Linked DNA regions of Homo sapiens. The protein of the gene in region 1 purifies or fractionates together with the protein of each later gene. This does not show direct contact. Each region holds a gene or a part of one and is shown on either strand. Other genes may lie near its edges.

What was found.
Region 2: the proteins of CENPF (region 1) and NUP107 purify together in Homo sapiens (affinity purification with western blotting; one study listed by BioGRID and IntAct). This does not show direct contact.

The regions. Positions count from the first base shown.
Region 1 is NC_000001.11:214,640,929-214,644,750, forward strand, and holds part of CENPF (centromere protein F), read left to right. Parts: coding exon 1-2,396; intron 2,397-3,628; coding exon 3,629-3,822. UniProt on the Homo sapiens protein: Required for kinetochore function and chromosome segregation in mitosis. Required for kinetochore localization of dynein, LIS1, NDE1 and NDEL1.
Region 2 is NC_000012.12:68,689,899-68,693,720, forward strand, and holds part of NUP107 (nuclear pore complex protein Nup107), read left to right. Parts: intron 1-704; coding exon of another isoform or gene 705-732; coding exon 733-848; intron 849-2,069; coding exon 2,070-2,214; intron 2,215-3,822. UniProt on the Homo sapiens protein: Plays a role in the nuclear pore complex (NPC) assembly and/or maintenance. Required for the assembly of peripheral proteins into the NPC. May anchor NUP62 to the NPC. Involved in nephrogenesis.

The DNA.
Region 1 (3,822 bases):
AAGAAAATCTCATGAAAGCAGAACAGATGCATCAAAGTTTTGTGGCTGAAACAAGTCAGCGCATTAGTAAGTTACAGGAAGACACTTCTGCTCACCAGAATGTTGTTGCTGAAACCTTAAGTGCCCTTGAGAACAAGGAAAAAGAGCTGCAACTTTTAAATGATAAGGTAGAAACTGAGCAGGCAGAGATTCAAGAATTAAAAAAGAGCAACCATCTACTTGAAGACTCTCTAAAGGAGCTACAACTTTTATCCGAAACCCTAAGCTTGGAGAAGAAAGAAATGAGTTCCATCATTTCTCTAAATAAAAGGGAAATTGAAGAGCTGACCCAAGAGAATGGGACTCTTAAGGAAATTAATGCATCCTTAAATCAAGAGAAGATGAACTTAATCCAGAAAAGTGAGAGTTTTGCAAACTATATAGATGAAAGGGAGAAAAGCATTTCAGAGTTATCTGATCAGTACAAGCAAGAAAAACTTATTTTACTACAAAGATGTGAAGAAACCGGAAATGCATATGAGGATCTTAGTCAAAAATACAAAGCAGCACAGGAAAAGAATTCTAAATTAGAATGCTTGCTAAATGAATGCACTAGTCTTTGTGAAAATAGGAAAAATGAGTTGGAACAGCTAAAGGAAGCATTTGCAAAGGAACACCAAGAATTCTTAACAAAATTAGCATTTGCTGAAGAAAGAAATCAGAATCTGATGCTAGAGTTGGAGACAGTGCAGCAAGCTCTGAGATCTGAGATGACAGATAACCAAAACAATTCTAAGAGCGAGGCTGGTGGTTTAAAGCAAGAAATCATGACTTTAAAGGAAGAACAAAACAAAATGCAAAAGGAAGTTAATGACTTATTACAAGAGAATGAACAGCTGATGAAGGTAATGAAGACTAAACATGAATGTCAAAATCTAGAATCAGAACCAATTAGGAACTCTGTGAAAGAAAGAGAGAGTGAGAGAAATCAATGTAATTTTAAACCTCAGATGGATCTTGAAGTTAAAGAAATTTCTCTAGATAGTTATAATGCGCAGTTGGTGCAATTAGAAGCTATGCTAAGAAATAAGGAATTAAAACTTCAGGAAAGTGAGAAGGAGAAGGAGTGCCTGCAGCATGAATTACAGACAATTAGAGGAGATCTTGAAACCAGCAATTTGCAAGACATGCAGTCACAAGAAATTAGTGGCCTTAAAGACTGTGAAATAGATGCGGAAGAAAAGTATATTTCAGGGCCTCATGAGTTGTCAACAAGTCAAAACGACAATGCACACCTTCAGTGCTCTCTGCAAACAACAATGAACAAGCTGAATGAGCTAGAGAAAATATGTGAAATACTGCAGGCTGAAAAGTATGAACTCGTAACTGAGCTGAATGATTCAAGGTCAGAATGTATCACAGCAACTAGGAAAATGGCAGAAGAGGTAGGGAAACTACTAAATGAAGTTAAAATATTAAATGATGACAGTGGTCTTCTCCATGGTGAGTTAGTGGAAGACATACCAGGAGGTGAATTTGGTGAACAACCAAATGAACAGCACCCTGTGTCTTTGGCTCCATTGGACGAGAGTAATTCCTACGAGCACTTGACATTGTCAGACAAAGAAGTTCAAATGCACTTTGCCGAATTGCAAGAGAAATTCTTATCTTTACAAAGTGAACACAAAATTTTACATGATCAGCACTGTCAGATGAGCTCTAAAATGTCAGAGCTGCAGACCTATGTTGACTCATTAAAGGCCGAAAATTTGGTCTTGTCAACGAATCTGAGAAACTTTCAAGGTGACTTGGTGAAGGAGATGCAGCTGGGCTTGGAGGAGGGGCTCGTTCCATCCCTGTCATCCTCTTGTGTGCCTGACAGCTCTAGTCTTAGCAGTTTGGGAGACTCCTCCTTTTACAGAGCTCTTTTAGAACAGACAGGAGATATGTCTCTTTTGAGTAATTTAGAAGGGGCTGTTTCAGCAAACCAGTGCAGTGTAGATGAAGTATTTTGCAGCAGTCTGCAGGAGGAGAATCTGACCAGGAAAGAAACCCCTTCGGCCCCAGCGAAGGGTGTTGAAGAGCTTGAGTCCCTCTGTGAGGTGTACCGGCAGTCCCTCGAGAAGCTAGAAGAGAAAATGGAAAGTCAAGGGATTATGAAAAATAAGGAAATTCAAGAGCTCGAGCAGTTATTAAGTTCTGAAAGGCAAGAGCTTGACTGCCTTAGGAAGCAGTATTTGTCAGAAAATGAACAGTGGCAACAGAAGCTGACAAGCGTGACTCTGGAGATGGAGTCCAAGTTGGCGGCAGAAAAGAAACAGACGGAACAACTGTCACTTGAGCTGGAAGTAGCACGACTCCAGCTACAAGGTCTGGACTTAAGTTCTCGGTCTTTGCTTGGCATCGACACAGAAGATGTAAGTACCTGGGATTTAAATGCCATTTCTCGGTTTACATGACTAGTGGACACTCAGTAAATGTTTGTCTAATTGAAATGTACATTAAACCTAAGTTAAAATATTTTTAGGGTTCAAGGAAATAAAATACACCAAAATATTTTCAAAACAAACCAGAACTTGAGGAAAATGAGTAAACGTTATTTGAGGAATAAATTTCTATAGGGATTAGATTTACATAGCATTATATAGAATATTACTAAAGATGTTTTTAAAGTCTGGAGAAAATTATATTATGGAGTCAGAAAGTCTTTAGAATGTGTGTTTCCACCCTTTGTGCATTAATAAAGTATACTGAAATAATTAAGAACTTACAAATGGTAATATGTAAATTTTTAATCTCTCCCACTTTTCAGACTATTTTTGATGTTATGGCATTATCGTCATGAAACTAAATACAGCAGATTCTTTATGTATTACTAAACAGTTTTCTCTCTAACAATTTACTGTGGTACAAAAATATGATTTGGTATAAGTCATTTAAAAGGGCTTTTAAAAAATTGAATACATATTTGTTTAATTGCTTGTAACTTTGTCCTTTCTAGCCTGCTAGCTTAATTAATAATGCTATATAGTGTATGCATGTCACTTGATTTCCTCTGTCTATCTCTGTGAGGTAGAGAAGGCAGGTCATGGTGAGGTGATGGCAGGTGTAGGTGCAACAGCAGATCCCCAGTTTACAGATGAGAGGAAAGTGAGGCTCAAATATGTAATTTATCCAATAATGTACAGTAAGTGCTGGATTGGGGATTAAGTCCTTGGACTGGGAATCTGGTTATGAAACTTTACTGCCTTATTAAAGAGTATCATAAATGCTGAAGGTGGAAGCTGAGCATTTTGTTAGCCTCTTATTTAATAATTACAAAGAGATTTCATATTTAGGCTACCTGAATATTCTTAGCAAGGGAAAAATATGAAATTTAAATACATTACAAATTGTAATTGAGCCGAAGGGTTTGTCTTCAAGATAAATGCCTAACCCCAGTGTCTTGCCCATAGGGGCCACTTACTGAACGTATAAGTATGTTGAACATTTGAATGAAGAGAGAAAGATGTAGTGGGAAATTCACCACTTTAAGAGATGTGTTTAGCAGAGGCCACGCATCAGTTTCTAAAAAGTAATAACTAAATCTATTCTATTTTGATTCTTTTTGAAAAATAAAATGCATGCTTGTTATGTATTATAATTACAGGCTATTCAAGGCCGAAATGAGAGCTGTGACATATCAAAAGAACATACTTCAGAAACTACAGAAAGAACACCAAAGCATGATGTTCATCAGATTTGTGATAAAGATGCTCAGCAGGACCTCAATCTAGACATTGAGAAAATAACTGAGACTGGTGCAGTGAAACCCACAGGAGAGTGCTCTGGGGAACAGTCCCC
Region 2 (3,822 bases), on another chromosome or scaffold:
GGCTGGATGCAGTGGCCCATGCCTATAATCTCAACACTTTGGGAGGCCAAGGTGGGTGGATCACTTAAGGCCAGGAGTTCAAGACTAGCTTGGCCAACATGGCAAAACCCTATCTCTACTAAAAATACAAAAATTAGCTGGCGTGGTGGCACATGCCTGTAATCCCAGCTACTCCGGAGGGTGAGGCAGGAGAATTGCTTGAACCCGGAAGGCAGAGGTTGCAGTGAGCTGAGATTGTGCCACTGTACTCCAGCTGGGGCGACAGAGCAAAAAAAAAAAAAATCCCAGTTCCATTATTTACATACTCTTTTTTTGTTCTGAGACAGAAAAAAAAGAGTATGTAAATAATGGAACTGGGATTCAAACAATGATCTGTTTACTCCAAAGTTTATGCCCACTACACTGCACTGCCTCAGTATGCCTTATAAAATTAAAATATGAAGAATCCGTTGACTGATTAGTGTCTTTAACTGCTCAGTTATTCTATAATGAAAGCATCTGTAATTGCAGTAAAATGTTTCCTGTTAGGCTCAGTAGTACCTACAGCTCAAATTTAGAAAAATAAGTTAAATCCTTGTATCATGGAAATGTTAACATTTAAAGTATTTATTTGGTTAGAGTCTAAATAATGGAAAACTGAAAAATTTATTCTTCATTGTTTGTTTGCTTACTTTGTTTTGATAATGAATGCTCACGCACTTTAGGTTCTTTCTACCAACCTTTTGTTTATAGTTACCCCAACAAGCCGAAGCTTACTAAGGCAGCCAGATATTTCCTGCATTCTTGGAACAGGAGGGAAGTCGCCCCGACTTACGCAGTCTTCAGGGTTCTTTGGAAATCTCTCCATGGTATGTAGAAAAATAGGGCTAAGAACTCCTTTTGGGTCGAGTGTGGTGGCTCACATCTGTAATCTCAGCACTCCCTGAACTCCTGACCTCAAGTGATTCTCCCGCCTTGGCCTCCCAGAAGTCAGGAGTTTGAGACTAGCCTGCTTAGCATGATAAAACCCTGTCTCTACTAACAATAAAAAAATTAGCTGGGAGTGGTGGCTTATGCCTGTAATCCTAGCTGCTCGGGAGGCTGAGGTGTGAGAATTGCTTGAACCCAGGAGGCAGAGGTTGCAGTGACCTGTGATTGCAAAAGAAAAAAAAAAGAGAAAAAAGAACTTCTCCCTTTTTATAAAAATATGATATTTGATGTAAAAGTCTTTTAACAAATATTGAGTCAGAATCATCATAACAGTAACTTTAGGTTATATGGATTGAAATAATTAGACAGTAAAAAAACTGAAAACCTTATGCATCTGATATCACAGATGGAAACTGTGACACCAGCAACCTTTAGATGAAAATAAGATGTTTTAATCTGTCAGTTTGCTGACCAGAAGAAGTACATGCTGTGGTTGGTTGCTGATGGCTATAAAATCTGATCCCTGTTTTGAAGCATACAAGAGTAGGAATCAGAGGTTAACAGATGAAGAATATCTTAAGGAAGAGATAAAATGTATTAAAGGGGATAAAAGAGAAAATTGGAAAAAGTAGGTGAGATACTCTTTAGGAATCACTATGGAACAGTATTAAAAATAGCAAAAGAAATGTTATGTAAGCTGTGATGCAGAATGACTTCACCTAAGTATTAAAAATACACTATAGTAGCCGGGCATGGTGGCTCACATCTGTAATCCCAGCATTTTGGGAGGCTGAGGCAGGTGGATCACATGAGGCCAGGAATTTGAGACCAGCCTGGCCAACATGGTGAAACCCCATACCTACCAAAAATACAAAAATTAGCCAGGCGTGGTGGCACGTGCCTGTAGTCCCAGCTACTTGGGAGGCTGAAGTGGGAAGATGGCTTGAGCCTGAGAGGCAAAGGTTGCGTTGAGCCATGATCGTGCCACTGAACTCCAGCCTGGGCAACAGATCCAGACCTTATCTCAAGAAGGGAAAAAAAAAAAAAAAGACGCATACATACATATAATTTTTAGAAACCTTATTTGTTTTTAAAGTATCCACTCAGTGACAATAACTCCATCACTTTTCTGTATTTTTACTTTTTTGTTTTTTTTTAAGGTTACTAATCTGGATGACAGTAACTGGGCAGCTGCATTTTCATCACAGCGTTCCGGGCTGTTCACAAACACAGAGCCCCACAGTATAACAGAAGATGTAACTATCAGTGCTGTTATGTTACGTGAGGATGATCCTGGAGAAGCTGGTAAAATGGCATTGAGCTTTGTGACAAGTAGCTTTTCACTTTAGCAAGATGAAGGAAACCATTTCTTCCTGTTTCTGAACGTCATTATGTTTTTCTTTTCTTTCTTTCTGTCTTTTTTTCTTGAGAGAGTAGCTTAAACAACAGATTTTTGTGTGTGTGTTTTTTGAGACAAGAGTCTCACTCTGTTGCCGGGCGCGGTGGCTCATGCCTATAATCCTAGCACTTTGAGAGGCCGAGGCGGGCAGATCACGAGGTCAGGAGTTCAAGACCAGCCTGGCCAACATGGTGAAACCTCGTCTCTACTAAAAATACAAAAATTAGTTGGGTATGGTGGTGCACACCTGTAATCCCAGCTACTTGAGAGGCTGAGGCAGGAGAATCGCTTGAACCCGGGAGGCAGAGTTTGCAGTGAGCTGAGATCGCACCATTGCACTCCAGCCTGGGCTACAGAGCAAGACTCCGTCTAAAAAAAAAAAACAAAAAAAAAAACAGTCACTCTGTCACCCAGGCTAAATGCAGAAATGCAGTGGCACAATCATGGCTCACTGCAGCCTTAACCTCCCAGGCTTAAGCAATTCTGCAGCCTCAGCCTCCTGAATAGTTGGGACTGCAGGCATGTACCACCATGCCTAGCTAATTTTTTTTTTTTTTTTTTGAGATGGAGTCTCGCTCTGTCACCCAGACTGGAGTGGAGTGATGGGATCTTGGTTCACTGCAACCTCCGCCTCCCAGGTTTAAATGATTCTCCTGCCTCAGTCTCCAGAGTAGCTGGGATTATAGGCGTCTGCTACCACACCCGGCTAATTTTTGTATTTTTAGTAGAAACGGGGTTTTGCCATGTTGGCCAGGCTTGTCTCAAACTCCTGACCATGGGTGATCCACCCGCCTTGGCCTCCCAAAGTGCTGGGATTACAGGTGTGAGCCACTGCGCCTGGCCGCCAGCTAATTTTTTATTTATTTATTTATTTATTTATTTTTTTTTTTAGACGGAGTCTCACTCTGTTGCCCAGACTGGAGTGCAGTGGTGCAATCTCGGCTCACTGCAACCTCTACCTGCTGTATTCAAGTGATTCTCCTGCCTCAGTCTCCTGAGTAGCTGAGATTACAGGTGCCCACCACCACGCCTGGCTAATTTTTGTATTTTTAGTAGAGAGAGGTTTCACCATTTTGGCCAGGCTGATCTCGAACTCCTGACCTCAAGTGATCCGTCCTCCTCAGCCTCCCAAAGTCCTGAGATTACAGGCGTAAGCCACTGTGCCCAGCCTAATTTTTTATTTCTTTATAGAGACAGGGTCTACAAAGACCAGCCCAGGCTGGTCTCAAACTCCTGGACACAAGTGATCCTACCGCCTCAGCCTCTCAAAGTGCTGGGATTATAGGCAACAACATAAATTTATTTTCTCACAATTCTGGAGCCTAGATGTCTGAGTTAAAGGTCTTGGCAGGGTTGGTTTTCTCTGAAGCCTCTTCTCTTGGCTTACAGATGGCTGTCTTCCTCCTGTGTCTTCATCTGGTCTTCTGTCTATAATATATTTTTCCTTAAGCTAATTAGTTGTGGTTATGGCAATGGTATTTGATACAGTATCACTAGAAGGTTGAGAACCTCAC